Regions from separate parts of the Homo sapiens genome. Here all the other regions are reported to be linked to region 3. The links are microRNA targets in miRTarBase. Many come from high-throughput screens and were not tested one by one. Region 3 holds a microRNA gene; each other region holds the end of a gene's coding sequence.
What was found. The annotated mature microRNA hsa-miR-505-3p reads CGUCAACACUUGCUGGUUUCCU and lies in region 3 at 2,123-2,144, opposite strand. An mRNA with a match to its seed (bases 2 to 7 or 8) in the 3' UTR can be bound and repressed. Matches are read on the target gene's strand: a 7mer-m8 pairs with bases 2 to 8, a 7mer-A1 pairs with bases 2 to 7 and ends in A, and an 8mer does both.

Region 1: miRTarBase lists GPLD1 as a target of hsa-miR-505-3p. The part of its 3' UTR that is shown has no 7-base or 8-base seed match.
Region 2: the mRNA of TCF7L2 is a reported target of hsa-miR-505-3p. Seed matches in the 3' UTR shown: 7mer-A1 at 5,084-5,090.
Region 4: the mRNA of TMEM37 is a reported target of hsa-miR-505-3p. The part of its 3' UTR that is shown has no 7-base or 8-base seed match.

What each region holds. Positions count from the first base shown.
Region 1 is chr6:24,422,758-24,430,253 of GRCh38, reverse strand. It overlaps GPLD1 (glycosylphosphatidylinositol specific phospholipase D1), which reads left to right. Exons shown (of 25, transcript NM_001503.4): 25 at 1,136-4,422. The coding sequence ends at 1,222. MRS2 (magnesium transporter MRS2) reads right to left here. Exons shown (of 11, transcript NM_020662.4): 10 at 7,204-7,317; 11 at 4,064-6,670. The coding sequence ends at 6,560. Among named protein-coding and RNA genes, the nearest start is that of MRS2, 24 kb to the right of the region's middle.
Region 2 is chr10:113,165,020-113,172,515 of GRCh38, reverse strand. It overlaps TCF7L2 (transcription factor 7 like 2), which reads right to left. Exons shown (of 15, transcript NM_001367943.1): 15 at 4,838-6,961. The coding sequence ends at 6,544. Among named protein-coding and RNA genes, the nearest start is that of SNORA87, 120 kb to the right of the region's middle.
Region 3 is chrX:139,922,038-139,929,533 of GRCh38, forward strand. MIR505 (microRNA 505) reads right to left here and starts at 2,194; the gene lies at 2,111-2,194. All of the region lies in intron 1 of ATP11C (ATPase phospholipid transporting 11C (ATP11C blood group)), which reads right to left.
Region 4 is chr2:119,436,681-119,444,176 of GRCh38, forward strand. TMEM37 (transmembrane protein 37) reads left to right here. Exons shown (of 2, transcript NM_183240.3): 2 at 209-1,824. The coding sequence ends at 760. SCTR (secretin receptor) reads right to left here. Exons shown (of 13, transcript NM_002980.3): 12 at 4,878-4,919; 13 at 3,163-3,577. The coding sequence ends at 3,437. Among named protein-coding and RNA genes, the nearest start is that of TMEM37, 8.6 kb to the left of the region's middle.

The DNA of each region.
Region 1 (7,496 bases), not on the chromosome of region 3:
CAGAGTGAAGCCGAAGGCCAGGCAAATTTAGTAAATGAGTAATTCCATAAATTGGGAAAGAGAGGGAGAATAAAGTACCATTTGATGCTGTTTTCTTAAGTGTAGATTTTCCCTATTAATTGACACTGGGTATTAAGGGATAAGATAAGCACAGGGCTAAGCATAGTGTCTGACCCATGATACAACCTCCACAAATTTTAGCTATTATTATTATTTCTAGATTTCATCAGTAGTTTTCAAAATTAAATAAGAAACTGTCATATCCTGCTCTGACCAAAATACTGTCAGCCAGTTTGATCACCCGTACCTCATGTGCCAGCTTTGGTTCAGAATAACTTTTGTCAGTTTCCACAAATCAAATCCGACCTCGGAGTATGAAGATTTGCCACCACTGAAAATATTTAAAGACCAGGCATGGTGGCTCACATCTGTAATTTCAGCACTTTGGGAAGCCGAGGCGGGTGGATCACTTGAGGTCGGGAGTTCGAGACCAGCCTGGCCAACATGGTGAGAGCTCGTCTCTACTAAAAATACAAAAATTAGCCAGATGTGGTGGCACATGCCTGTAATCTCCGCTACTCGGGAGGCTGAGACATGAGAATCACTTGAAACTAGGAAGCAGAAGTTGCAGTGAGCTGAGATCACATCACTGCACTCCAGCCTGGGTGACAGGGCAAGACTCTGTTTCAAAAAAGAAGAAAATGTTTTAAAAACTTGCAGCAGGTTTTGAAGGCAATTCTGAAAGATGGGTCCTAAAATGTTTTAAGCAGCAGGGTAGGTGGGAGGTACGCTAAACACATTGACAAAGCCAGCTTCTAGGGGAAGTCCTTACTATTCAAGATATGTTTTCCACATTGTACCAGAACTAAGCATGCACTGCCCTACTTCTCCTTTATGATTTATGTGCCAGAATAGGGATTGGGGTGAGCATCCTTAGCTGCGGTTTTCAGAACTTATAGATGTGAGAAAGCGGTCTGTAAACAAAGGGAAAGTGGCATTTGAGTTCAAGCCAGGGGATCTGGCCAGTGTCTTATTCATCTTTATATTTCTAGAGCATAGCATGATGCCTGGACTACCATAGGAACTCAATAGATGTTATGAATGAGCCATGAATTCTGTCTTGTGTCCCTTACAGAACCAAGTCGTCATTGCTGCTGGAAGGAGTTCTTTGGGAGCCCGACTCTCCGGGGCACTTCACGTCTATAGCCTTGGCTCAGATTGAAGATTTCACTGCATTTCCCCACTCTGCCCACCTCTCTCATGCTGAATCACATCCATGGTGAGCATTTTGATGGACAAAGTGGCACATCCAGTGGAGCGGTGGTAGATCCTGATAGACATGGGGCTCCTGGGAGTAGAGAGACACACTAACAGCCACACCCTCTGGAAATCTGATACAGTAAATATATGACTGCACCAGAAATATGTGAAATAGCAGACATTCTGCTTACTCATGTCTCCTTCCACAGTTTACTTCCTCGCTCCCTTTGCATCTAAACCTTTCTTCTTTCCCAACTTATTGCCTGTAGTCAGACCTGCTGTACAACCTATTTCCTCTTCCTCTTGAATGTCTTTCCAATGGCTGGAAAGGTCCCTCTGTGGTTATCTGTTAGAACAGTCTCTGTACACAATTCCTCCTAAAAACATCCTTTTTTAAAAAAAGAATTGTTCAGCCATAAAGAAAGAACAAGATCATGCCCTTTGCAGGGACATGGATGGAGCTGGAGGCCATTATCCTTCATAAACTATTGCAGGAACAGAAAACCAAACACTCCATATTCTCACTTGTAAGTGGGAGCTAAATGAGAACACGTGGACACATAGAGGGAAACAACACACACTGGGGCCTATGAGAGGGCGGAAGGTGGGAGGAGGGAGAGATCAGGAAAAATAACTAATGGATACTTAGGGTGATGAAATAATCTGTGTAACAAACCCCCATGACACACCTTTATGTATGTAACAAACCAGCACTTCCTGCGCATGTACCCCTGAACTTAAAAGTTAAAAAAAAGTTGAACTTAAAAATAACAGATTGGCCCATGCCAATCAAAGTATAATAGAAAGCATAGTATACAGAAAAAAAAAAAAAAAAGAAACTGAGGGAGGAAAAATAGTACAGAGTAAAGCATGGGGGTGAGGGATAACCTCACATTCCAAATCACTTGTGACTTAGTCCTTTTTAACTTTTATTTTAGGTTCAGTGGTACATGTGAAGGTTTTATCTTTTCTGTTCCTCCCACCTTCCCCACTCAAGTAGACCCCAGTGTGTGTTGTTTTGTGTTCATAAGTTCTTTTAACTTAGCACCCACTTGTGAGAACATGCTATACTTGGTATTTGGTTTTCTGTTCCTGGTCGTGTGTTAGTTTGCTAAGGATGATAGTCCTTTTTTTTTTTTTTTTTTTTTGAGACGGAGTCTTGCTCTGTTGCCCAGGCTGGAGTGCAGTGATGTGATCTCAGCTCACTGCAACCTCCGCCTCCCAGGTTCAAGTGATTCTCCTGTCTCAGCCTCCCAGGCAGCTGGGACTACAGGTGCACAATACTACGCCCGGCTAATTTTTGTATTTTTAGTAGAGACAGGGTTTCACCATGTTGGCCAGGCTGGTCTCGAACTCCTGATCTCAGGTGATCCACCCACCTTGACCTCCCAAAGTGCTGGGATTACATGTGTGAGCCACAGGACCTGGCCGATAATCCTTTCTTAATGAGGATTAATACCTTTTCAATGTTTATATAGTGAAGGACAAATATAAAAACCAAGACTATCACCCTTCTGTGCCCTCCAATACTTTTGTAGAGTTGGCTGTTCTAACACCTAAAGAGCCTAGCGACACTGCTAGTTTTAAGCCATCTCATGAGGGACCTTTGTCGCATTAGGTTACAACTTGTGCCAAAAGAACTAGAGGGAAAAGATGTGGCCTGAGCCACACGCTACTGTAAGGGCCGGAGAGGAAAGCAGGCCTTGGCCTCGCTTGTTCCTGGGCTGTTTTTCGTAGGATGGATTTCATTTGTCAGTCCTGCAGCGTGGCACACTTAAGGGAATGGAATGTATCATAGGGTTTCAGTTTCAGTAAACATTAGCGGGCATTATCTGTAAACAGTAACTAGTTTATTTTGTGTTAAATTGGGAAGAACCTCTTTCTTCTGCCACGGGTGAGATGATACTAAAAGCAGGAGAAAATAACAAATGAGAAGAGCCCTTCTCTTCTCAGCTTCTCTCAAGAGTAGAGACTGGTGAAAAGGGGACAGGAAGAGGAATCCAGCTGAAGAGTGGAAAGTTAACAAGAACATCAAGAGGTACATCCCTAGAGAGCATCTCTGGGTCACTCCCAGGATGACCTCATTTTTCTGGAAGAGGTACATGTGCTAGCTGCATAGTAACCTATGGCACAGCAAAAGCACAAGGAAGCGCCATTTGGTTTTGTTTAGGGACAATTATTGGTAGCCCAACCTATCTGAAGAATTACTTTTAATTAAAAGGATGGTTATTTTTAGGGGACCAGAAATTACTTAGTTGTATTCACTTATGAGTTGAGCAGTTAGAGCACTCTGACATCTGACACTTGAGTAAAGGGATGTTTTTCTCAGTACTGGGTCTTTTCATTAGACGGATGCATTTATATAGTGTCAGTTTTTATGCTTCACTAAATGATAAGGCCTCTGTTTAAACATGACCATTATTTACCTCACGATTTATATTTTTCTCAATGCCTGAATACACCCAATAGCAAGCACCAGGTGGAGGTTAAGACCCACAAAAATGGAAGCAAGCTTCAAGTTTATAGGACATTTAACCATACTAACCCCAATGTCAAAAACAATGTAAATTATACTCCTACTGTAAAAGGTCAACTGATATGGCACGTATGTAAAAAACCTGGCATACAGGAAAAAATTAATGCATGACAGTCTAATATATTATCCTGATACATGGATTAAATTTTCTTTCCACTAAGTATTAACTATAGTTTTAAGCATTGATTCTGCTTAATAACTAAAATGTAAAGACCTTACCTTGTAGGGTTGTAATTTCTCATTAACAGAAATCTGAACTTATACAAGTTTAACTGAAATTTATCTTTATTTCAAGATATCAGAAGACATTTACATATTTGCATTTTCTGTCTTGCTACTATCTGCGTATATGTAACAGCTTTTCTCAAGGCTTCAAGATAGGAATTGTTTTATGCCTTTGTATCACAGACCTAAGAGACCAAAATTATTTGAAGATGGAGTGGGGACAAAACTAGGGTCTCTGCAGTCCCTACTCCATGTACCATCCATTAGCTCACCTCTGTAGGTATTACTAAAGTCATGAGAGTTAAATCCAACGTGCAACTTTAATATTGCAATTCCAAAAAATAAAGCTGTATACAACTCTTGGAATAACTCACCAAAATAAATAGCTTTTTAATATAAAATTGGTTAGTGCTGCTTAACAGTCTGTGTTCATGAAGAATAAGGTGTTAATAATTGTGCTCACATTTGTTTAGGAGCCTTCCAAAGACAGTATCACACCTTGACGTGTTCGACACTTGATGTGTTTGACAGGCGATATGATTGCTTACTCACTCACATAACCCAGTGTTTGGTACCTACTTTCAAACAGTAATTAATGTGCTCAGTCCATTTTAGTTCAAAATTTAAAACCAAGGAACTTCATATATTTTTGGCATAAGCTGATTTATTATTTATGAGAACTTTAGTATAAGAAGCATCCTGCAATCACAAAAGTGGAACTAGTTGATATTTTGAAATCATACTTGATTTAACCACCTTCAGAAATTCTATAAAACACTAGCAACTTCCTTTTATCAGACTTATGAGGTAGTTACATTATTTTTCCTTTTATTGACATGATTCATCAAAAAATTATTTTATCCAAGCTCATAAACTAAGTCAATAAAACTGCAAGGAAAAATGACAAAAATTCTATCTTATGCCTGATCTTAGTCAAATCAAATGTTGCCCTCTGGGATTCCAATTCTTCATGTCACAGTTAAGTAGTACTTATTATGTATTTTACAGTGATACGACCCAAAATAGCAGCAGTGTGCTCTGAGGTGTGCCAAAAGTGTGCCCTGTGAAATATAAGTATTATCAAATACAATCTTAAAAATCCTAAGAGATTCGTAATGCTAGAGGGTGCTGTATGTTCACATTCCGACAAGAACACCATGACGCGTGTTCCTGACCCACAGTGTGGTGGCACAGGGGCCACTGCGTGCTCGAGTCTAGCCCAGCCTGTCCTGTTCCATTCTGTTCTGCAGCTTCCCTCTAATGGCTTCCCATGACCACACACAGGAGTGGGGAAACCTTACTTGTACTTCATCGGTTTTCTTCCAAATCAGCGACGGGAGTAACATTTTTATTCCTATCACCAAACCACCTGAAAAATGGACTCCTAAACTTCCTCATATGACATCACATTAGGCTAATCATGTACCCTCAATATCATCAGGGTAAGTGTATTTATTCTGTTATTATTACATTTGTAGTGCAAGAGCTGGACACTCTAGAATCTTCCATGCACACTACTTTGGGAGGCTTAACAAATGTTCTAGTGCCTAACTGTACTTAACCTCCAGAAAATATTTTAAAAGGTAGGTAGGATGTTAAAGAGGATGGCAGCTTTCAGGCTTACAAATATTAGCCATTTGTTTTAAACCCAAATCTCTGTGGAAATGAGAAGATATCACAGTTCTAACATTTATTCATCCTCATGTTTTAGGAAGCTCATCTGTCAGCTTCTGAGGTGTAGGCATATAGATTAGCAGGACAATAAACATTTTTCTTTTTGGGGCAGGGCAGGGGTGGTATCTAAATATCTACTTTAAAAATCAATAAATGGACAAAGTGCTACAAAACAGTAACAGAATGGAAATACTTCCTTTCAACTTTGCTTCCAAAGGCTCTAATTACAGAGAGCAAAGAAAACTAGTCTCAGGGGCTGAGAACGTGAAATCTTGATTAGGAATCCATACAATGGTGATATTAAATTATTTCTTTTTATTCACCTTTTATAAAAAAAAGGGGGCAAATACAAGAAATAAGGTTATGTCAAAGTTTGGTTTTTAAAGCTCAAACTTACAGAGTCTGTTGTAAGGTTAATACATAGAATGCTAGCTTTTTAGTCACCTGAGAATCAGGAAATTCACATGAACATAATTCCCTATACTGACAAAGAACTATAGCTACCTATGGGCTTGTCAAGTTCCTACGCTTCATTCAGCATGAAATTGCACTTTTCTTGATATGTATAAATTAAAATCTATGCAACTGTCTGTGCTTGTGTTGCCTCATATCACATCTATAAAAACAGCATTTAAAGTTTGTAGGAAATAGAATTTTGGCCTTTTACAAAGCAAATACTTTGTTTCTTTAACTCAGAATTCTGGAAATGCAATCCAGTTCTGGTATTGTGACTGCCAAAATATTTTTGTCTTCAAACATTAGTTTTTTTCAAGTGTCTGACTCTATACAAGAAAATAATAAAAAGAGTATCAGAAGTTTCCTGTAACTACCATAAAAAAAACTTCAGTATCCACGGGGCTGTTCCTAACGGTTTGTTAGGATGCTCCTTCCTGATCCAAGTCCATCCAGTCTGAGGCTATTTTTCAATTCCATGCTTCTATCTGCCAGAAGAGTCTTTTTAGGTAAAGAAGCCATCTAAATAAAGCAGAAGTATTAATTTTAGTATCTTTTTTAAAAGAAAAGCCACTAGTAAAATGATGTATTATGTAACTACTCAGTGAAGAAAGGACTATAAGCAGTATCAGTGTCTTAAGTATTTATTCCAGTGGTGCCATCTTCAAGTACAAAGAAAATGGAGGTGAATTTTCTATCTTTTAAGAACGTTATAAATGTTTCCTACATTTCCATTTGGTTATGACAAACCTTATACCAGAATTACTAACATCTGTTTAAATGTATGTTGTCAGAGTTCTACACAAATTATATTTCTAACTTATTGTGTTAGGCAGTGTGCTAGTAAGTGCTTTACACATATTGTTTAATTCTTCCCATAACCCTATGAAGCAGGTAATACCGACTTAACTGACAGATAGGGAAACTGAAGGAAGTTTGAGAAAGCAACTCGCAAGGGCCATAGTGCCTGTGACAACTTAATCCCAGGCGCTCTGACTTTAGGGCCCATGATCATAACCCTTCCACAATACCGCCGTGAACCATATCCTTCATACCATAGGAGGCAATGGAGCTTCTAGCTGTCGTCCAAGGAATGAAAGCAGGCGCCTCCAGATGAGGCCACTTCCCATGAACATAATTCCTGTAATCAGCCAAAAAATTCTATGGTCCTAAAAGAGAACACAGTTCATTTCCATCGCAAAACGCCAGGTTCCTTAGAAGATTCCTTGAATTGTTACTGCCCCAGAGTTTGAAAGCCTTATGTTATTTGTACAGCTCTTTCCTGTAGAAAGGAACTAAGAAAAACAAGGGCCTTGATAGCACCCACAGAATAAAGCAGGAGAAGAAC
Region 2 (7,496 bases), not on the chromosome of region 3:
ATAAGAAATATAACATGGTATTTAGCTATGCAGGCTCCTAAGTCAGGCTGCCTGGGTTCAAATCTTAAGCTCTTTGCTTCCCAGATATGTGTTTTTGGGGAAGCAACTTAACTCCTCTTAGTGTCACTTTCTACATCTGTAAAATGAACATAAAAGCAATTTCCATCCCCATGAGTATTAAAAGAGAAATGCAAGTCGAGTTTTTAGCAATTTCTATTGTTATTATCCTTACATAAAATGTCTTTCTAGGTGAGCGGCTTGTCCAGGCCTCAGGAATGTTGGTGTTCCCTTTCCTTAAAAACTCCAGCCTATAAGATGGTGCAGAAATAAACCCAGGAAAACTGGAGACCAAGCTGGCTTCACCCAGACTTACATGCCAGTTCCTAGAACAGTCCCTGGTGTAAGCAGGTGCCCAAGAAATAGTCACTGAATGAATGAAAGTGCTTACATCTCCCATCAAGTGTATCCACGAGGTACTAGCTTTTAAAAACCCAGCTTCAGAGCCAGAACTCACCAGTGTTGCCCATCGGACACAGGCCAGAGTTCACGGCAGGCCTCTCCGATGGCCAGGTGCCTGGGAGTGCGGAACCAGATATGGAATGGGAGACAAAGAAGCCAACCTCAGATAGGAATCCTTTCGAAAACCCAATCTGTGGCCCTGTTCATTCGTGATTCCCAGCTCTGGTTTGCAACATTTGCCTCAGGCACCGTTCACGAGAGGCTTTTAGGCTACTCCTCAATTTCTTTGCAAAGGGCTTTAATTGAAAACACGTTTCTATGCCGCATTTCTATATCACAAAAAGCAACCCAGACAGGGCTGTGGCTCCCCAGAGACTAGAAGTCATTTTCCTAAGGCCATTAAGTTGCAGGTAAAATGAATGAGTGTGGATGAGTCACAATGTCTGTCCCTGGGTCATGTAGATGTGTCTTCTGCATCTAGATCTTTGTGATTCTCTTACTTGGGTGTGAAGAGCTGGACTAACCAGCAGAATCCCAAAGAGAAATAATGAAAACAATAATCCCAGCACTTTGGGAGGCCGAGGTGGGCAGATCACCTGAGGTCAGGAGTTCAAGACCAGCCCGGCCAACGTGGTGAAACCCCGTCTCTACTAAAAATACAAAAATTGGCCGGGCGTGGTAGCACACGCCTGTAGTCCTAGCTACTCAGGAGGCTGAGGCAGGAGAATCATTTGAACTTGGAAGGAGAAGATTACAGTGAGCCAAGATTGTGCCACTGCACTCCATGCACTCTCCAGCCTGGGTGACAGAATGAGACTCCGTCTCAAAAAAAAAAAAAAAAAAAAAAAGAAATAATGAAAACAAATAGAAGACTGGCCTTTGGCTTTTATATTAATAATAAACACTATGACCTACTAGTCTAGCAACTTTGCATCTTAGCCCTCATACAAATCTGTCCAGATGAACACCAGTATCATCACTTGTTAGGTGAAGAAACAAAGACTCAGAGAGATGAAGGAATTACCCAAGGACACACGGCGAGAGAGTCAGATGTGGGATCCTCCAAGCTCAGATTCACTCCACTGCTCCAAGCTACTTACTTTCTCGAAATCCTGCATCCAGGTCCAAGGCTCTCTGACCCTATGTGAATCCACATCATCAGGAAAAAAAAAAAACAACGAACCTTTTAATATCTGAAATGAAATGCCATGTACTGTAAAAATTGCTTTCCACATGGGCCTATCCAAGACCACCACCAATAGTGGAACGAACAACTGCCCATTCTGAAGGGTTCTGTGCTGAGACTCAGCAGTTGGAGAATGATTCTGTAGTGGGCTGAATGGTGGCCCCCCCAAAATATATGTCCATATGCAAATCCTGTTAAAACATGTATTGCTTTATATAGCAAAATATGTGATTAAGTGAAAGATCTGAAGAGAAGGGATATTTATCCAGGAGTATCTAGGTAGGCCCAAAATACAAAAACATGTATCCTTGTAAGAGAGAGGCAGAAGGTGTCTGGGGACAGACAAGAGGAGAAAGCGATGTGAAGATGGAAGCAGAGATTGGAGTGATGTGGCTTCAATCCACGGAGTGCCAAGGATTACAGGCAGCCACTGGAAGCTGAAACAGACACGGAACAGATTAGCCTCCAGAGCCTTGGAGGAAGCTCGGCCCTGCCACCACTTTGATTTCAGACTTCTGGTTTGCAAGGCTGTGCAAGAGCAAATTTCTGTTGTTTTAAACCACCACATTTGTGGCGATTCATTACGGCAGCCACAGGAAACATACGCCCTACTAATATGCAAACATCTTTGGCTAAGCCCCGTAAGAGGCCGAAAGTGATGTGGCTGGGAAAGTGAGAGTTATCGTTTCCCAGACGTTGTTTCAGGGTCTCTTAGTAACAAAAAAACCCGCAGATCCACTCTTACAGATGAAATTAGAAGATGCTGAGTTTGAAAAGAAACTCTTGAGGTAAGAAGAAATCAGACAGAGAGAGGAAGTGCCGAAGGGCAAAGACTTGGCTGGGCATTTGGAAGACTAGAGCTTGGGCTGCTGAGAACACAGGCCTGGGGGAAAGGAAGTTCCATCTTGGGTGGAAGGATCCTCCAAGTACCAACCAGGTGTTGTAAGGCAGGCAAGCGTGTGACTTGGTGACCCCCATTTTGATTTTTATAGAGATCGGCACTCGGGCTGGCTGACAGCAGAGGGACTGACCCCCCTGCCCTTTTTCTGGCCTTTGTAACAAGGGCAGTGGGTTACATCCCAGCATGGCCGAAAGGATTAAGGTCACCACCACCCTGAAAGTTGTGAGAACACAAAATTTGGAAGGCTCATGGAAAGTTTCCATTTTGCTGCTTCCTACAATACGAGTGTTGAGTTGGCCAACCTCATTCCTTCTTTCCTTCAAAAAATGTATATCAAGCACCCCACTGTGTGCCCCGCACTAAACCAAGACCCTAGCATACAGCAGTGGCACGAAAGCCACAATCCTGTCATCCTGGAGGGCTCTCTAGAGAAATGGTTTTCAACTGAGGGTGATTTTGCCCCCCAGGGGACATCTGGCGATGTCTGGAGACGTTTCTGGCTGTCATGACTGGCGGTGGGGCAAGCGCTGACAGGTTATCTAGTGGGTGGAGGCCAGGGGTGTTGATAACATCCTACAGTGCAGAGGTCAGACCCCCACAACTAACAATTATCTGGCCCAAAATGTCACGAGTGCTGAGGTTGAGAAACACGGTGAGGCTGGAATGACCTAAGCAGACGACAGCCACTTTCAAAGGAGACTAGAAGACAGAGGCCTGAAAGACCACACAGGAGGGAGACAGGCAACCCTCAGGGGCTCCGGACCAATTCCCCCAACAAAGGGACGTCTTCGTCAAGACCTGAAGCATGAGGGGTTGTTTTCCAGGCAGGAAGAGCAAAAATGCTTTTAGGTAAGCTTAACTCTGTAGTACAGCCAGAGAGGAAAGGGAGTGAGCGAGTGTGTGAGGCAGAGGAGGTGGGGGAATCAAGGAAATCCTCTGAAAGGACTGTTCCCTCACTTCTGTTTTGGAGGGGAAGGGCTGTCTTTATTTAAGAGCAGGGGCCCGGAGTCAGATCTGAATTTAAATCCCAGCCCCACCACCTCCTGTGTGGCCTTAGACAAGGCACCTAAAACCCTCAGTTTCTAAATCCATTTTCAGAAAATGAAGCAGAGGGTGGCGGAGGAGAAGAATGTCTGCCTTAGGTGGTAGTGTTAGGATTAAATGAGAAAATGCACATAAACAGCTTGGCACACTGCCACGAATAACAGATACTGTTCTTATTTGTGTTTTCAAAGGTCACTCGGCCCAGTGTGCAAAATAAAATGAGGAAGGACAACCAGAAACACTCCTCCCTGGGAATACAAAGCAAAGCAAAAACAAAATGCCGAGATTTTACAGAAGAAAAACTTGCTTGAGCAAAGCAGTTTCCGAGGGGCTCTTAAGTCCTTGATGCGATACTGTGGTCACCTTAAGAAACCACAACGGCAACACGAACAGTTCCATGCCCATTGAAATCGTCATCCTTTGAAGGTATAAATGTCCTAGATAAATGGAACAATGTGTCCATCCATCCATCTAGTCAGCAAGAGAAATGAAATCCAGGGGAAACCTTAGGGAAGATCTGTATCATGGCCCCTGCTCAGTGATGGTGATGAACTTGGGCTCTTACCAGGGTACAGCCAGAACACTTGGATCCCACATACAGCAAGGCCCTTCCACACACACCTTTCAGTGCATCACCTTAATCCAATTTTCTAAAAAGCTGCTTACTCAATAATCGCTCACTGCTAGAGAAAGGGCAGTTTGATACCCTTGCATCTCTCCCAGGATGCAACTCTTGGAGGTTAGGATGCTTTCACACCCATGATCCTTAACTGCTAAGGATGTGGTTTCTTAAGTGCACTCTTGGTGGACTAAGTCTCATTCACCAGAATTAAATTCTTTCTGCTTGCTACTGTGAGAGGATGAGTAGGATATTTCAGAGAAACTGGTTTATAGCCCCCAAAAAAGTGACATTTGCTCTGTAACTGTGCTTTGCTTTCAGCAACAAACTACTGGGAATGGCACGGTGAAATACTACAGAAGACACACACCAGGGATCCCCTTTGATACTGATCATCTCCATTGCAAATGACACATTATGCAAACCAGATACACCAAATGGGCCACGAGGATGGAGGGGAGGGGATCAACCCCTCAAAAGAGTCCAAGACCACGTTCTGGTATCTAAGTCATCACCTACACACTAACTGTATGGTCAAGTTCCAACGTGGGAATATGTTTTTCTTGATTACGGTAGGTCCAGTTTCCCTAGAGATAAAAATCCAAATCACAGAAACAAGTGACCAGCCTTTATCTGCACATACTAAGTTGCTTTTATTAATCCAGAACGGCATGCTACAGATACTGTACAGCATGAACATTTATTCATTACAAAAATGGCTTCCAAACCATTAAAAATGAACTTGGAATAAGAGCATAAAACGGAACAGTAACATCACAACTGTTAGGAAACATTCAAAGTATTCACAAAAAATGTTATAGTTAGCATTTTAATAAACCAGAGAAAAATCGGAGACAGTTTTACAATCGCTTCATGTCAACTACAATGGCACTGAATGAACAGGTTTCAGCTTTATACAGCATTTTGCAACATCAACATGCCTAGGTTTTTTTTATTTTTAAAGTCTGCTGCCTACTCGTATGTAATATGTGTACATAAAAGCGGCAGCTGGTTTTTCGTTTAAGAGTAATCTAATATACAGAATTTTGGCCCTTAAGGGTTTATACCTCTTCATTTAAAATGCTTTCTGGACAATCTGCTACCAAACACATTTTGTTATAGGTGACATTAAAACTACATACAAATCTACCTATGTAACATCACAGCAAAACATGATGAACAAAAATTACAGCATCAAAAAGAGGGAGAAAGCTAAATTCACTGAGAATTTTGGCACGTAAAGTTTTGTACACGGTCAGTCCGGGTCCTAAGGGCGCAGGGTAGGGCATCCCACTGGGAGTTCAAAGGGGAAACGAAGATGGTTCCCACTGCTGCTCAGACAGTGTCGCTAAAATTCCCTCACTCATTTTCAAGTCTTGTTTTACATAATGGCTTTTAAAGCAACTTTTGTTAATGCTACTGATCCTTAATGCAACTATTAATGTCCATTTGGTGACATCTGGGTTTCATACAGAAAAAAAAAAGTCAAAAAGGGGAAACAAAAATATATATACACATTTTATATATAAACTTAAAAACCTTGTACAAATGAGTTGTTATATATAAGATGCTTATGCTAAGGGGGAAAAAAACTTTATACAGTTTCAAGAAAAAGGAAAACATATTTAAAAAGGGACGACATACAGGTACGACAAGCAATCTCTAAAGCAATAAATACTACTGGCCCAACAGCGTTGTGATTCTATTAAGTGTTGAGTAGCGTCCCCTCCCCCCAAAAGAACAACACCATGGAACAAGGTATATTAACACATTTTTACCCTTTGTTTCTGTACATTTAAACAATAACAAGTAACATCACAATAAGAGTTGTTTCACACAGAAAAAAAAAAAAAAAGTAACGGCACTGCATTCATGGTGCCCTTACGGTTTAAAAACCAGATGTAAAATGATTGGTTCGCAAGCTCGTATTTAATACAAATAATACAGAACCAACTCCTTCTGGAGGGCTGCTTCAAAATTGCTTTTTTTTTCTTTTTGTTTTTTAATCAGTCTTTTAAAACTAAGCTATCCGAACTACATAACAGTTATGTATATATATATATTTTTTAAACGCTACAAAGACTTTAAACAGCTGTTGATAAAAATTTTGGTAGAATCATGAGGTTCTTCTCTCATCTACATATTTAAAAGGAGAAATTGAAATAAGAATGGGTCAAATATTGACCAATGAACTCGATAAACATCAACTAATGTAGCCACATGGCACAAAATTAAGAGAGTACAAAACAAAACCTTTCAAGGTGGGGGTGGGGGGCAAATTAAGAAAAGTGAAACAAAACCATAAACAAAGCAGCGGGGTTCACGACGCTAAAGCTATTCTAAAGACTTGGTGACGAGCGACAGCGGCTGGGGCTGGGTCCCGGCCAGGGAGCTGTGGGAATGTAAGGAAGAAGTCGACGGCTGTGCAATTGATGAGGAGGGGGCGGCAGGCTGCAAAGCGGCTGGGGGCAGGTCCAGGGCCCCGTTGGGACAGAGGGCGGAGGCCTTGTGGGTGGCCTCAGCGAGCAGGAGGGCGGGTGGCGGAGGCATCATGGACAGGTGGGCCAGGGGGTCGGGCTTCAGGGACAGCGACAGAGGCTGGGTCTGCTCAGTCTGTGACTTGGCGTCTCGGGGAGGGGAGCCTAGCAGGTTCGGGGAGGGGGGAGGCGAATCTAGTAAGCTTCCATCTGAAGAGGGTGGGCTGAGGCAGCTGCCTTCACCTTGTATGTAGCGAACGCACTTTTTTTTTCTCCTAGAAACAGGGGAGAGAGTTATCTGTGAATAGAGGGCACAGATGCCAAGGGAGAGAGTTACCTAATGCTCACACCCAAGCTGAGGTCACCTAAGGGATGTCCCACAGAGGTGGCACGCCCAGTGGTCCGAGGACAATTACAGTGGCGCCCCCCCAGGGTGGGTCGCTTACTTCACAGTGCCCAGATCTAAGCCTGCTCTGGCAAACAACTTATTTAAGAGTCTGAACTCTCTACTTGCTTCCCCCAACCCCTACTAAACACCCATGCCCCACCATGCCCAAATTATATACGAGAGCAGCATGGAGGCGGCCACCTGCAGATGGTGGCATCTATTTGCCAAAAAGTGGCTTTGTCCAAATTGAGAAGAACTGAAAAGCTCTTTTGGCTTAGACAGTCCCTCACTTTCCCATCAAGTTTCCTCGGCCCTTCACTCCCATTCCCACCACTACCACCCCCATCCCCCAGTGATGTGTGTGTGTGAGTGTGTGAGTGTGAGTGTGTGTGTGTTTAAAAGAGAAAGACAGAGCTCCTTCC
Region 3 (7,496 bases):
CTCCTAAAAATACAAAAATTAGCCAGGTGTGGTGGCACACGCCTGTAGTCTCAGCTACTCAGGAGGCTGAGGCAGGAGAATCACTTGAACCCAGGAGGCAGAGGTTGCAGTGAGCCGAGATTGTGCCACTGCACTCCAGCCTGGGCAACAGAGCAAGACTGTCTCTCTCTCTCTCTCCTTCTCTAAATATATATATATATATATATATATATATATATATATATATATATATGCATTTTTTTTAAATGACATAAATTTACTGGAGTCATAGGTTTCAGAAAAGAGCATCTATGTATGGGAAGATTCCTATAGCTATTGTTGTGGAGACCTAAAGCCACCTGTTTTTAGCATCTCCTTTTTTAAAATCAAAATTACTACAGCAAACGTAAGGCATTGAAGATCGAGGTTTTGGTGTTTCTGCTGTGTCATGGACAGGATGTTTGTGTTCCCCTAAAATTCTTATGTGGAAATCCTAACTTCCAAGGTGACAGTACTAGGAGGTGAGGCATCTGACAGGTGATCAGGCCATGAAGGTGGAGCCCTCATAAATGGGATTAGTGCCCTAGGGAGCTCATTTCACTCTTTTTCTGCCATGTGAAGATACAATAAGTCACCAGTCTGCGACGTGAAGCCCCCTCACCAGTACCCAACCATGCTGGCATCCTGATCTTGGACTTCCAAGTTCCAGGATTGTGAGAAATAAATTTCTGTTGTGCATAAGCCACTGAATCTATGTTATACTTTTTATTTGTTTTGTTTTGTTTTTTTGAGGCAGAGTCTCGCTCTATTACTCAGGCTGGAGTGCAGTGGTGCCATCTCTGCTCACTGCAACCTCCACCTCCCTGGCTCAAGCAGTTCTCCAGCCTCAGCCTCCCGAGTAGCTGGGATTACAGGTGCTCTCCATCACACCTGGCTAATTTTTGTTTTTAGTAGAGATGGGGTTTCACCATGTTGGCCAGCCTGGTTTTGAACTCCTGACCTCAAATGATCCACCTGCCTCAGCCTCCCAAAGTGCTGGGATTACAGGCGTGAGCCACTGAGCCCCACCTGTTATACTTTTTTTTATAACAGCTCAAACTCATTTGGGGTTGGCATGTATGTTCTCTAAATTGACTGGTTCCCATGCTTTAAGTACAACAATGACCCTGCACCATTGCTCAGGTAATTGCCTCCTCCTGTAATGAGACTGCCCATCCCTAAAATCTCAGAACCTTCAGCCCTTTGGGTCCCCAGAGGCCCAGTTGACAGGCTACTTCCTCCATAAAGCTCTCCCCAAGAAATGAAGCCAGAGAGCCAGTGCCTCCTTCTGAATGCCTACTGCACTTACTGTGTATGTCCTTCAAAAGGATGGCTCTGGTGACCTACTGGCCTTGTGTGGAGGATGGTCCTGTGTGCTGGTCTTCTCTCTCTTCTACCAAACTGCAGGCTACTGGTGAGCAGGGCTGTACCTTACACACCTCTACAGCACCAAATAGGGGATGAGTGTTCCAAGAAAGCTGTGATTCACATGAATGTTTTCAGAAAAGAAGCCAGAATAAATTGTACACTATACTATAGATCCCTTAATCCTTATTACTGCAAAATACATTAATTGTGAAGCTTAAAGAACGTCCCCACTGCTTACACAACAGGTGTAGCTTACATAATCTGCTCTACCCAGCTGTTACTTACTTGTGGCAATTCCCTCCTGGCTTCTACTCCCTGTCGATATGTGGGATTACTGCACCATCCAGTATGATTTCCTTATTCCTTGCTCCAATCATAACAAATTTGTTAATTTTCCTTTATAACAGTAAAAATGGCTGAAACTCCAAATAACCAGAGATATCCCTAGGGTTTTCCATGACTATAAAACTCAAAAGACAATCCAGGATATAAACCAATATTTGTAAATATTGCCATAAAATTCATTGCTCAGAATTTTTTTTTTCCTATATAGTCTTCTTTGACAAAATACTGCAGTATTCCCACCATTTGGAAATTGTGTTACCCAAAAGGTATAGAATGGGATGAAGTGATGATGCAAATGAGTATTAGGACTATGAGCAAATGAATGGGAGCAGTAACAAAAGTCCAAAAGTCAGGAAAAATGAAAATCCACGAACTTGGCGATGCTCCAGAGAGGAAACCAGCAAGTGTTGACGCTAAACTGGCAGAAACATCAATACTTCCTGGCTCCCCCACTGGGTGCATCAATTTACCACCGGCAGGCTGCTCTTCTGCTTCAAGTGACAAACAGTAAGTGCTTTCAATGACAGTATGAAAAGGAATGACCCATAATCTAGAAGCATGGCTATGGGCAGCAAAGAAAAGATGTGATTGCTGGGAGTCTGTCTCAGCTGTACTGCTGATTAGCTTAATGATCTTGGACAAGTCATTTCCTTTCACTGAAAAAATACCAGTGTTTCACAATATTTGCGTGATGGAAAGAGTTAACATAGCAGGCCTGACACTGCTATTCTTAGTAAGGCCTGTTTGCAAGGTTGGTCCTTGGCTGGTGTCTGGGGACTTGGATTTTGGGAGGGTTTCCATCACCCTGATAAGAGTGGCTCACTCTGCTTAAGCTGTGTAAACAATAGGGTTTACACTGAATACCTGCTTTCCTCCTTGGGGTCTGGAATTTTGCTGTGTACCAGGTGGAGGGTGCCTGTGTGACCAGCTCCCACTAAAAACCCTGGGTACTGAATCTCTAATAAGCTTCCCTAGTAGACATTTCACACAAGTTGTCAAAACTCATTTGCTAGAGGAATTAAGCATGACCTGTGTGATTTCAGTGAAAGAGGACTGGAAGCTTGCACATGGTTTCCTCCAGACTTGGCCCCAATGAGCCTTTTCCCGTTACTGACTTTGCTCTGTATCCTTTTGCTATAATAAATCACATCCGCAAGCGTTTCTATGTACTGAGTTCTGCCAGTGAATCAACAAACCTAGGCCGGTTTTGAGGACCTCTGTCACAATTGGTATAGTGTTGAATAGTCTACCAAACGTTTTTTTCAACAGTCTTGTGAAATAGGTATTATTATTCCCATTCTATCGATGAAGAAACTGAAGTTCAAAAAGGTGAACAGAGAGTGTGCCCAGAAAATAAATATTTCCGTGTTTACTATATTATATATTGCTGTTCTCAAATTTTAGTGAACCTAAGAACCACTTGGAATGCTTGTTAAAAACAGTTTCTTGGAGTCTGTCACCCAAGACTTGGATTCAGTAAGTTCAAGGCCCAGGAATCTGTATTTATAGTAAGCATACAGGATTATTATTATTTGAGATGGAGTTTTGCTCTTGTTGCCCAGGCTGGAGTGCAATGGCACGATCTCGGCTCAGTGCAACCTCTGCCTCCCAGGTTCAAGTGATTCTCCCGCCTCAGCCTCTCAAGTAGCTGGGATTACAGGCCTGTGCTACCACTCCTGGCTAATTTTGTAGCCCAGTCTGAAATGCATAAGCTTCTTGGTGGCTGCTTCCTAAACTGATCATTCTTCATCTGTTATTACTGACTCAGACTGTGTTACCAATTCAGCTCAAAACAATTAAACAAGTATTAATTGAACATCTACTGTTTACCTGATGCTGTGCTAACTGCAAGATCATTTTCAAGAACACTTCTGATTTTTCCAAGAATACCTTGGTAAAGAGAAAGGGACTAGGAAAACATTGCCACATTAATACTTTATGACAACATATAATAGAGACGTCTAAAAAACAAATGATGATATCTGCTTGAACAGCAATATCATCAACATCACCAATCCTCCCATATTCCATTAAATACATATGGCACAAGAAATCAATGATTTCTACTTCACAAATACAGGTTAACCTTCTAAATCTGGAAATCCACGGTCCATTATCATTTATAAATCACATCTTCTATTATCAAGAAGTCAGCCGACCCAGTAATCCGTCCATACACTGCAATAATTGAGGGGCTGTCTGCCAATGTGTGGGCATAGGGCATCCTGTGCCCATATCTGCAGTGCTGAGCACTCATTCATCATTAAGCTGCAGCAGTGTTAACATATGCTGCAGTTGTGCCAGTATGTTTTGTTTTACGATCACCGCTAATCTACCCTTATACCAGGCCAAGAAGGTAAATGTTAAGTGAAAGGAAATAAACTCGAGAGCCAGCACCTAATTCATTTGTGGAAGCCCAGAACCTCCCTCCACCTAACCAGAAAAACTCCCCCAGTCTCGAGGGTTCCAGATGTAAAAGGTTCATCTGTATAAAGCACTACAGATGTACAGGAAATTCCACCACCTTGAAGAAAAAAATAGTATTTTTTTTTTATATCCCATGCATTCACCCTCTTTGAGAGAACTGAATAACCATGTTAGACAAGCAATGAGCCTTGATTTTTTCCATCACTCAACAAACCAGTATTTGATTTCACTCAGTGGGCTAGTTCTTTGCACATCATGCAGACACAGCAAGGTTAGTTATGGTTCTTTCAGGGGCCACTGGCCATCCTTTACCTCCTAGAACCCACTGCTCAGCAGGTGGTAAACTGGCAGCTTTTTGAAAAAACAAGCTCTTTTGAACAGTTGCATCAATATAAAAATGGCCAGCTTCACCTGCCCAAATCTCAATTCAGCTAAAAGTTAATTAGGAACACTGGAAACTACCTGGTATATAGGCACTCAATATTACTCACTAAATGGCTGAATTATTAGCAATAAGCATAAACAAAAGGAACAAACAGTAAACACTTACAGAAAGTATTCAGGACACATTCAGAGTTTTATGTTGCTTAGTCACTAAAAGGTAGATCAGGAAAAAAGAAGACAAAACCTGCTTTCACTTGTGTAAAGATTTATTTCAAGTTACAGTGGTTCATTTCTAAATAAGTTTCCCACCTTGCGTGGGGTCAGCCTAGCATCTATTTGCAAAAGAGCAGTTTGCCATGCGTAGGTCAGATGAAAGGAGACAAATGCAAGAAACTCCTTTTTAACTGACATCCAAACAACCAGAAAATAACTGATATTGTACAATCTATTTTTAGTAGAAAGAAAAATGACAAGTATGTAATAGTAACTTATTCACAAAGATCAAATTTCATGGTATGTCACAAATGTATTCAATGCAATGCAGTTACCATGCCCTCTATATCTATAGTTGTGTATGTAATGATAATTACAGCTCAGGAAGACAGGAACCTTGTCTGTCTTGCTCATCTACGACCCCAGGATTGACTGCAGTGCCCAGCACATAGTAGGTGCTCAGTGAATATTTGCTGAATGATAATTGCTCTGCAAAACCATACAATGCCTTAATCATCTAAGAAAGAGGCCAGGCATGCTGGCTCTTGCCTGTAATTCCAGCACTTTGGGAGGCCGAGGTAGGGAAATCGCCTGAGGTCAAGAGCTCGAGACTAGCCTGGCCAACATGGTGAAACCCCGTTTCTACTAAAAAATACAAAAAATTAGCCAGGCGTGGTGGCAGGCGCCTGTAATCCCAGCTACTAGGGGGGCTGAGGCAGGAGAATCGCTTGAACTCGTGAGGCGGAGGTTGCAGTGAGCCAAGATCGTGCCATTGCACTCCAGCCTGGATGACAAGAGTAAGACTCTGTCTCAAAAAAAATAACAATAAAAATAAAAATAAATAAAAGAAGGGGATATTTTGTGGCCGGGCTCATGCAGATGGCAGATCCTGGGACTTCTCAGCCTCTGTAACTGCATGATCCAATTCCCATAATAAATCTCAAAAAAAAGGAAAAAAAAAAAGATTATACTATGGTCAGTATAGCTTTCGGCATTAGATGTATTTATTCTAATTCTTAGAATACTAGTAATGTATACGGTATACCCCAACTAACAAGAACTCATTCTTTGCTCATTCTGCATAAGAGCGGGTTTACAATAATCACTATCTGTAAGTAAAGGTTATTATTTATGGGATACATACAAAAGTTGTTCTTTCAAAAAATATTTTACTGAACACCTACTAGGGACCAGGCACTGTGCTAGGAGCTAAGAACACACTGTGAACTGTCCCTGTCTAGGACAGCCTTTCTCAATTAGGGTTCCTTCACTCCAGCTGCGCAGGAAAATGTTAATTTATTACTAACAATGCATGTCCTAGGGCATCAGTGCCAATTCTCTCCATGTTGAGAAAGACTAGGGAGCCATACAAGTTAAAAGGCAATTATAACACAATATGATTTAAAAAAAAAAAGTTGCTTTTAAGTATGGTCAAGTTCAACTGCTAAACCTAGACCTCTATGAACAGCCATGTGGGAGCCGAGATACACAGACCATTTGTAATAGTTGTGCAAATGTAAAAATATTGCAATACATACATACAGATATATTTCTAAACACAGTAAAATAAAATCAATATTTTCCCGCTCGTCAATGTCAGGCCAGGATTATTAGTAAAGTGAAACAGAAAAAAAAAAATGTTTAATTACTCTGATAGTTTAAAGGGGAAACTAAAAACCTTCTTGCTCCTGGGGAAAAAACAAAGCAATTACCTGAACTATTTTCTTAATTGCCTCCATATATTGCTTCATTAGACTAGCCTTGCCTTGGACTCAAAGCAATAAATTAGCTACCTATTTCATTAATTCTTATTTTGTATTTTTTAGTCTTATTTTAAATTTCCATTCTTCCTTATGCAGTCTAATTTCTTCCTAGTCCTGGGCATCTTCTGTGTGATATTATGATTATATGCTACATGCTTTATGAAACCAAAGCAGTTTAAGGGCTTCTAGAATCAGAGATTTAAATGTACTCCAGTATTTCACACTCACAATTAAGCTTTCATGTATCAAAGGTCTAGAAATGCATACCTGTTAACTATCACTGACAAGCTAAACTGACAGCATCCTCTTGACCAAGCCCCCAACCTACTTTATCAAGAAATCTCTTATTTTGAATCTTTAGTATAAAATAATTTCATAAGCCAAAAAGAGGGGGGAATTGTTTTTAGACTTTCAATAAATCTTTAAACCCAAGAGAACACGTTACTATAGTCACTAGGAATTGCATTAAGAATAAAACAAGACAGGATAACATAAAAGTCCATGACCCTTAAATCTCAACTAGTCCAGACTTCTGATTAAATATGCCTTTGAAGAAAATAAATTGTACAGACAGAGTTATTATTACTTATTTACTGTATTTATGGAGATGTTGACTTGAGAACAGGTGGTGCTTTTATTGCACTCAGAGACATCCAACTCTTAAATCCTTTAGGACACCCTCTACATGCCTCAACCCTAAAATGCTATACACCAAATCCACCAATTTCTTTCCACCTCAAAACTGTCAAAAGGAAAGTCATAATTCATCAGAAAGAAAGGAACACAGTTATTAATGGCAAAGAAGTCAAGACCATGTATTTAAAAAAATACAATGAATCACTATTTTCTTTTAGCTTGAAATTGGAAAACTCGAAAAATAAATGGCATTTCAAAAATGATTCAGCAAACACAACTGAGCTATAGAAGATGATGCTTGTAAGAATCCTAAGGGATTCTTCCACGTCAGGTTTAAAATAT
Region 4 (7,496 bases), not on the chromosome of region 3:
ATACTGGATGGTAAATGCTCACAGGTCTGGAAGGGAGGAAGGGTTCCCCCCAAACGGTGGGTCTGGTCTGTTCCGGGCTTCACAGGAGACCAAGCAGAGAATAAGACAGTGCGGAGCAGGATGGAGGGCTCAGGGGTCTTCCCTGCAGAGGTTCCTGGGGGCGTGGCAGGGCTGTGGCTGACAGGGTGCTTCCTACGGTTTTTTCCAGGCCCAGAGGCCTTTGGGCCAAAGGCAGCCCCGCCGGTCCTTCTTTGAATCCTTCATCCGGACCCTCATCATCACGTGTGTGGCCCTGGCTGTGGTCCTGTCCTCGGTCTCCATTTGTGATGGGCACTGGCTCCTGGCTGAGGACCGCCTCTTCGGGCTCTGGCACTTCTGCACCACCACCAACCAGACGATCTGCTTCAGAGACCTGGGCCAGGCCCATGTGCCCGGGCTGGCCGTGGGCATGGGCCTGGTACGCAGCGTGGGCGCCTTGGCCGTGGTGGCCGCCATTTTTGGCCTGGAGTTCCTCATGGTGTCCCAGTTGTGCGAGGACAAACACTCACAGTGCAAGTGGGTCATGGGTTCCATCCTCCTCCTGGTGTCTTTCGTCCTCTCCTCCGGCGGGCTCCTGGGTTTTGTGATCCTCCTCAGGAACCAAGTCACACTCATCGGCTTCACCCTAATGTTTTGGTGCGAATTCACTGCCTCCTTCCTCCTCTTCCTGAACGCCATCAGCGGCCTTCACATCAACAGCATCACCCATCCCTGGGAATGACCGTGGAAATTTTAGGCCCCCTCCAGGGACATCAGATTCCACAAGAAAATATGGTCAAAATGGGACTTTTCCAGCATGTGGCCTCTGGTGGGGCTGGGTTGGACAAGGGCCTTGAAACGGCTGCCTGTTTGCCGATAACTTGTGGGTGGTCAGCCAGAAATGGCCCGGGGGCCTCTGCACCTGGTCTGCAGGGCCAGAGGCCAGGAGGGTGCCTCAGTGCCACCAACTGCACAGGCTTAGCCAGATGTTGATTTTAGAGGAAGAAAAAAACATTTTAAAACTCCTTCTTGAATTTTCTTCCCTGGACTGGAATACAGTTGGAAGCACAGGGGTAACTGGTACCTGAGCTAGCTGCACAGCCAAGGATAGTTCATGCCTGTTTCATTGACACGTGCTGGGATAGGGGCTGCAGAATCCCTGGGGCTCCCAGGGTTGTTAAGAATGGATCATTCTTCCAGCTAAGGGTCCAATCAGTGCCTAGGACTTTCTTCCACCAGCTCAAAGGGCCTTCGTATGTATGTCCCTGGCTTCAGCTTTGGTCATGCCAAAGAGGCAGAGTTCAGGATTCCCTCAGAATGCCCTGCACACAGTAGGTTTCCAAACCATTTGACTCGGTTTGCCTCCCTGCCCGTTGTTTAAACCTTACAAACCCTGGATAACCCCATCTTCTAGCAGCTGGCTGTGCCTCTGGGAGCTCTGCCTATCAGAACCCTACCTTAAGGTGGGTTTCCTTCCGAGAAGAGTTCTTGAGCAAGCTCTCCCAGGAGGGCCCACCTGACTGCTAATACACAGCCCTCCCCAAGGCCCGTGTGTGCATGTGTCTGTCTTTTGTGAGGGTTAGACAGCCTCAGGGCACCATTTTTAATCCCAGAACACATTTCAAAGAGCACGTATCTAGACCTGCTGGACTCTGCAGGGGGTGAGGGGGAACAGCGAGAGCTTGGGTAATGATTAACACCCATGCTGGGGATGCATGGAGGTGAAGGGGGCCAGGAACCAGTGGAGATTTCCATCCTTGCCAGCACGTCTGTACTTCTGTTCATTAAAGTGCTCCCTTTCTAGTCCTTTTTCTGCCCAGAAGTAGGTGATGTTATTGCCCTCAGCCCATTTCATTCTACACTGACTCCTTCCCATTCCCTCACCTGTTGAATTCTGGCTCCCAGCAATTGCATGGGTTTTTGGTCTCTGCCCCGGTCTTGTCACTGCTGCAGGTTCCTTTCCTGGTCTGGGCTGAGTGCCTATACCTACGTCTATTGTGATGTTTTAAATTTTTTATTCCAGGATGCATGGAGTCATGAAGCTGTCTGCTTTGTAGGATATAAGGCCATGGGCTTTAAGGTTGAACCACCAAGGTGCCCAGAGTCCATGGAGATCATCCTGGAAAGGTTTCCATGAATTGCTCAGTTTTACAGAGTACAGAGCTCATCAACCACACTGGCGGCATCTTAGCCTGGGAAATGGGAACCTGGAGCAATCTACAAGTTGCAAAGGGGATGTGTAACCCCCTGGTTTCTTCACGGGGAGGGGATGTATGGAGGTGGGGAGTCAGGGCCCAGAGAGGGATGCACTTGTCCAGGGTCACCCAAAGCTGGGAGTAGAGCTGACCCACCCACCAGCAGGATGCCTTTTCCTTGACACGGAGGGGAGTTTCTCTACTTCCCTCCAGAACGCTACCCCCTGAGCACTAGTAGGTTTGGTTTTGCAGAAGCGTTCAAAAATGGAGTCCTTTTTCATCCTCACATGGGGGCAGGGAGTGCAGATATTCAAAGGAACCAAGAACGAGAGTGGAGGGTGAGACTGAAGTCCCCAGGAGCTTAGAGGGGCAGCAGATGGCCCCTGTCCTTCCCTGCCTGGGAGCAGGGAGAGCACAGACACAGCCTTGGAGCATGGGCATTTGAAGTCAAAGGCCCTGGACTGAACTTCCGCCACCTCTTTGCTTAGTAGCTTGGGCAAGTCACAGGGCTTTGGTGGACCTGTCTTCTCTGAAATGGGATCATGCCCCATTTCCTGCTGTGTCTGCCTCAGGCCGAGGACATCTGTGTGGAAGAGCAGGAAAAATAGGGGTGTCCCCCTCACACCCTGTTGGGGGTAGTAAAAGGGGGGATAGTAAAAGGGACTGGGGGCCCTGGGGCTTCCCTGGCCTCCGTGGTGACTTTATCATATTATTTTAGCTGTTGTCCTGAAGGTTTGGGTGAGAGCTGCTAACCAGGTGAGTTACAGTAGGAGACAGACAGCATCCGCCAAGGGCAAACATTTCATGTTGGCTGGGCCTTCTAATCTGGTCCCTGAGTAACTGAGCTGGGGGACCAGGGAGGAGCCCGCCTCCTGCGGGAAGGCATTGGGAGCAGGCAAGAGCGTACACCCTCACCTTGTGTCAAGGCAAAAGGATGGACAAATATAGATTGAATCTCATCCCAGGCACCATTTATTTCCCTGTCCCTTTCTGGGACCCCTGAACTTCTCTTCCCAGAAGAGCAAACGAACCAAATCCCAGGCCCTTGTCCTGCCCCACAGTGCCTCACATCCCTTCGGAAGAGTCCAAGGCCTGGGGAGGGGCATCTTCAGCTGAAGGAGGACACAGGGTGTCTGCTGGGAAGACTGGCTGTCCCACAGCAGTGCCCAGCCTTCGCAGGACCTCTCTTGGTCTCTGTCCGTGGGTGACCCTGCTCCAGCCTCTCAGATGATGCTGGTCCTGCAGGTGCCCTGGCTCTGCTCCAAGTGGCTGGCCTTGGTGCTGTTGCTGAAGGAGGCCACGGGGTGCAGTGGGAACTCACGGAGGTGCCATTGCTGCCACTTCTTCTGAACCTCCAGCTGCACCTGCCCGGGAGACCAGCCATCAGCCCAGGAGGAGAGGACAGTTCTGTGCCTGGAGCCCTGCTCACTCCCCCAGTGACTCCACGCAGGCCCTGCCACTCCTGCCCAGCTGCCCTGTCCCCTAGCCTGCAGGCCACGCAGATTGACTGTTTCCAGCCCCAATGTCCAGTAGCTACTGAGGGTCCCCTCTCTCCTGGGCACATGCACCTGCAATCTCATTACATCGTGTCTTAAAGAAAGGACTTGTGCACCTTGGGACAAGTGTGTGCCCTTGACATTACAAGAGCAGTGGTGGGGAAAGCTAGCTCCCTGGCCCCCAGGCTGAGAGGAAAAGAATCCCGGATTAAGCCAGAGGCTGAGTTCTCTGAAGGTCTGGGGCACTGACAGGGGCTACTGGGCAGAGGGCCAGCTTAGAGGAGGGTGTGGTCTGAAGGTGTGGGTAGGGCAAGGCCTGACTCCACTCAGTGATGGGTCCCCAGTGATTTTAAGTGATTTAAGATGGGTCCCCACTTATTCCCAGGAAGCCACCCAAGCTCAGAACTGATCTGGGAACTAGGGAGTTTCTCTTTGTAAATTTCCTTCACAATTCCCAGCTGCAGCAGCTGAACCTTTGAAGCTAGGCTTGATATTTGATTTTTGGGAAACATCAAAGATCACTCCCATTCAAGTGCAACAAACCAGATAGATGGTCAGTAGTCACAGAAAGCCTTAGCTCATGTTAACCACATAGCTCTGTATGCCCAGAGCCTGGGGTCCTGACCCAGATGCTCCATGTGAGGCTCGAGTCCTCAAAGTGAGTGTGCAGTCTCCCAAGGAGTCAGTGCTCATCTGGAGGTCCCTAAGGATTGAGCTGCAGACAGTTCTGAGTCACCCGTTTCACATATGGGCAGACTGAGGCCCAGAACAGGGCAGTGACTGAGATCGCCCATTAAGCAAGCAGCAGGGCAGTCAGGAACCTGGGTTCTGCCCAACTTTCCTCCTGCATTTGCTGAACAGATCAACATCGGCACCAGGAATGCTTGTTAAAAAACACTTTCTCAGACCCCAGTCCAGACCTACAGAATTTATTTCTGTGGAATGAGAAACTAGGAACAGGGTCCAGCCATGGTTTGAACAAGCCTTGCTCCCATTAAGCAAATTCAGACTCCTAAAAGAACTGGCCAAGCCACCTGCCACCAGACCCAGGACTCCCTCTGACCCTTTCCATCCCCCTTCCTACCACCCCTCCCAGGTAGCTCCTTCTGACCCGGAAACCAATGGCTAGGAGCTCTCCTGGGTACCTGGGTGACCCAAGACTACTCACCTCCCCATTGAGGAAGCAGTAGAGGACGGCCACCACCAGTCCCTGCCAGAAGAAGAGAGGTAGCAGGGTTAGCACAGGTGCTCAGCATGCGGCCTGAACCAGCTGGCCAGCTGCACCCTCCCCAGGTCTCTTAATCACCAGCTACAGGCTCATTTCCCCACCTCTCTTGCCTCACTGGGAATTAGGCTACCTCTTGTGGGCTGCCCACGGTGGCCCTGGCTGTGCTGGCTCATCCAGCATAAACTGTGAACTCCTTGCAGCCAAGGGTAGGCTCCCTTTTGAACACATATGGTGTCAGGGGGGCTGCTAACCCAGCCAGCCGGGATCAGGAAGCTCACCTGGGAGCCACAGGGATGGGTGGCACCTGAAGTCCGCCCACTCTGCCAGGAGGAGTGCAGGCTGCCCAGGGTGAGACCCTGGGCCCTGTGTGGTCTTATTTCAAGATAAACTGGAAATCTGAATATGTTTAAATGTAGATAACTAATTCAAATTGAAAAACAAATGTGTAGGCAGAACAAACTATGTACAGGTCCCGGCCAGCCAGTGGTGAGCAGGGTTGGAGCTCCCTGCTTAATGGACAGGTGGGTGCACCTCCGTGCTCAGAGTTTTATGTTCCCTGGTGTGGCAAGGTCTGTGCCTGTAAGACCCTCCCTCCCTGGTATTTGGAGCTCCTGATTTCCTGATGGTGCCCCCAGGATCCTGGTGTGGAGCTCTGTCAGGGGAGGGACTCCAGGCTGGGGCGCCTGCTTGGAGCCTAAGAGGCCTCCAGATCAGCAGGAAGCAGTGTCTCTGCGGCGCATTCACCCTGCTCCTCTCCTTTCTCAGGGACCCACCTCAGGCCACCCTTCTCTCCCTTACGGGCCTGCCCTCCCCACACAGAGGCCTGACCTCAGATGGCCCAACTCCTCCTCCCTAGTCCCACCCAGGCCTGCCTGTAGCTACTTATGATATTGGAAAGGAACCTCGAAGGGTGATGAATCAGCTCATCGATGGTGGGCTTAATATGTACAACTTCTCAGGGATATTGGCATTTTAAAAAGAGTTAGTGGCGAAGCTGGAAGGGTTTGCTTTAGAATTTCAGGTATCAATGACTGCTACATAGACTGGGGACTATTTGAGGGGCAGAAACACTCAGGGCATCGGTTTCCAAGTATTGCTGCACATTAGAATCACCTGGGACCTTTTATCCAGGTTGCACTCCCCAGATCCCAGTAGCTGGGGGCATCAGCAGCTTTTAAAGATCCCCACACAGTTCCAAAAAACGGGCATCATGGTCCGGGAACTACTGTCAGAGAGGGAGTAAAAGGCACTTCAAGGCAGGCTTTGAAATGAAACAGACTTGGATCGGAGCACAGCTAGGCCTGAGTAATTGTAGGTCCCAGGTGCTTCATTTAACCTCGCCAAAGCTCTCGGAGGCAGGTGGGAGGATCTTCACCTCACAAGCGAGGGAACTGAGGCACGGAGGGGTTTAGGCATGCCTGGAGCTCTGTGTGCTTGGCCCAGAGCCACGAGCAGGCCAAGGATGCTGCCCGTTGCATGGGCTAGGGTTGCCTGGCCTCCGCTGCGCTAGGGTCCAGGGACACATTTTCACTGTTCAGGGGAGGGAGTTAGCTGTGCTCCAGTGTATATAGGGCAGGCCTCACACAAGCCAGCAAGTTTACTAATTTCCACCGTGATTCTGCGATCATTAAGGATGAAGACTTTGAAGAATTTTAATGACATGAAGAAATGCTCATGATGGGCATGATAGAGAATTAAACAAAACAAGCAAGATACAAAACCATACACATCATGATCCCAATTATGTGTGTGTATCTTTGTGGAAAGAAAAGAGACGGAAGTAAACACACCAACACTTTAACAGAAGTTATTTCTGGGTTATGACGTTCTAGATTTTTTTCTTATTATTTTTCTTTTTTTGAAAAACTTTTCCTTATTTCCCAAATTATTCACAATAAGCAAGCATTATTTATACAATTAGAAAGAGTGAATACATATTTTTTTTTGGAGACGGAGTCTCGCTCTGTCACCCAGGCTGGAGTGCAGTGGCGCGATCTCGGCTCACTGCAACCTCTGCCTCCCAGGTTCAAGCAATTCTCTTGCCTCAGCCTCCCGAGTAACTGGGACTACAGGCACACACCACCATGCCTGGGTAATTTTTTGTATTTTAGTAGAGACAGGCTTTCATCATGTTGCCCAGGCTGGTCTCGAACTCCTGAGCTCAGGCAATTCGCCTGCCTCGGCCTCCCGAAGTGCTAGGATTACAGGCGTGAGCCCCCGCGCCCGGCCATAAATACATTTTTAAAGAGTATATGACAGTGATGGTGTTATTACAGTTGTATGTGTTCTTCTTTAAGCCCCGTCTTTTAGAAATGCACACTAAACTCTTTGAAGATGAAATAACATGATGTTTTGAATTTACTTAAAAAGATGGGGGTAGTAGGTAGGGATGGAGATGAAACAAACAGGCCATGAGTGGATACCGCTGAGGCTGGGGATAGGTAATGGGGTTCATTGTCCTATTCTCTTCACTTTTGTATATGAAAAACATTTTCTCATGTGTGTGTATATATAAGAATATATATACATATTCTTATATATATATACACATATGTATAT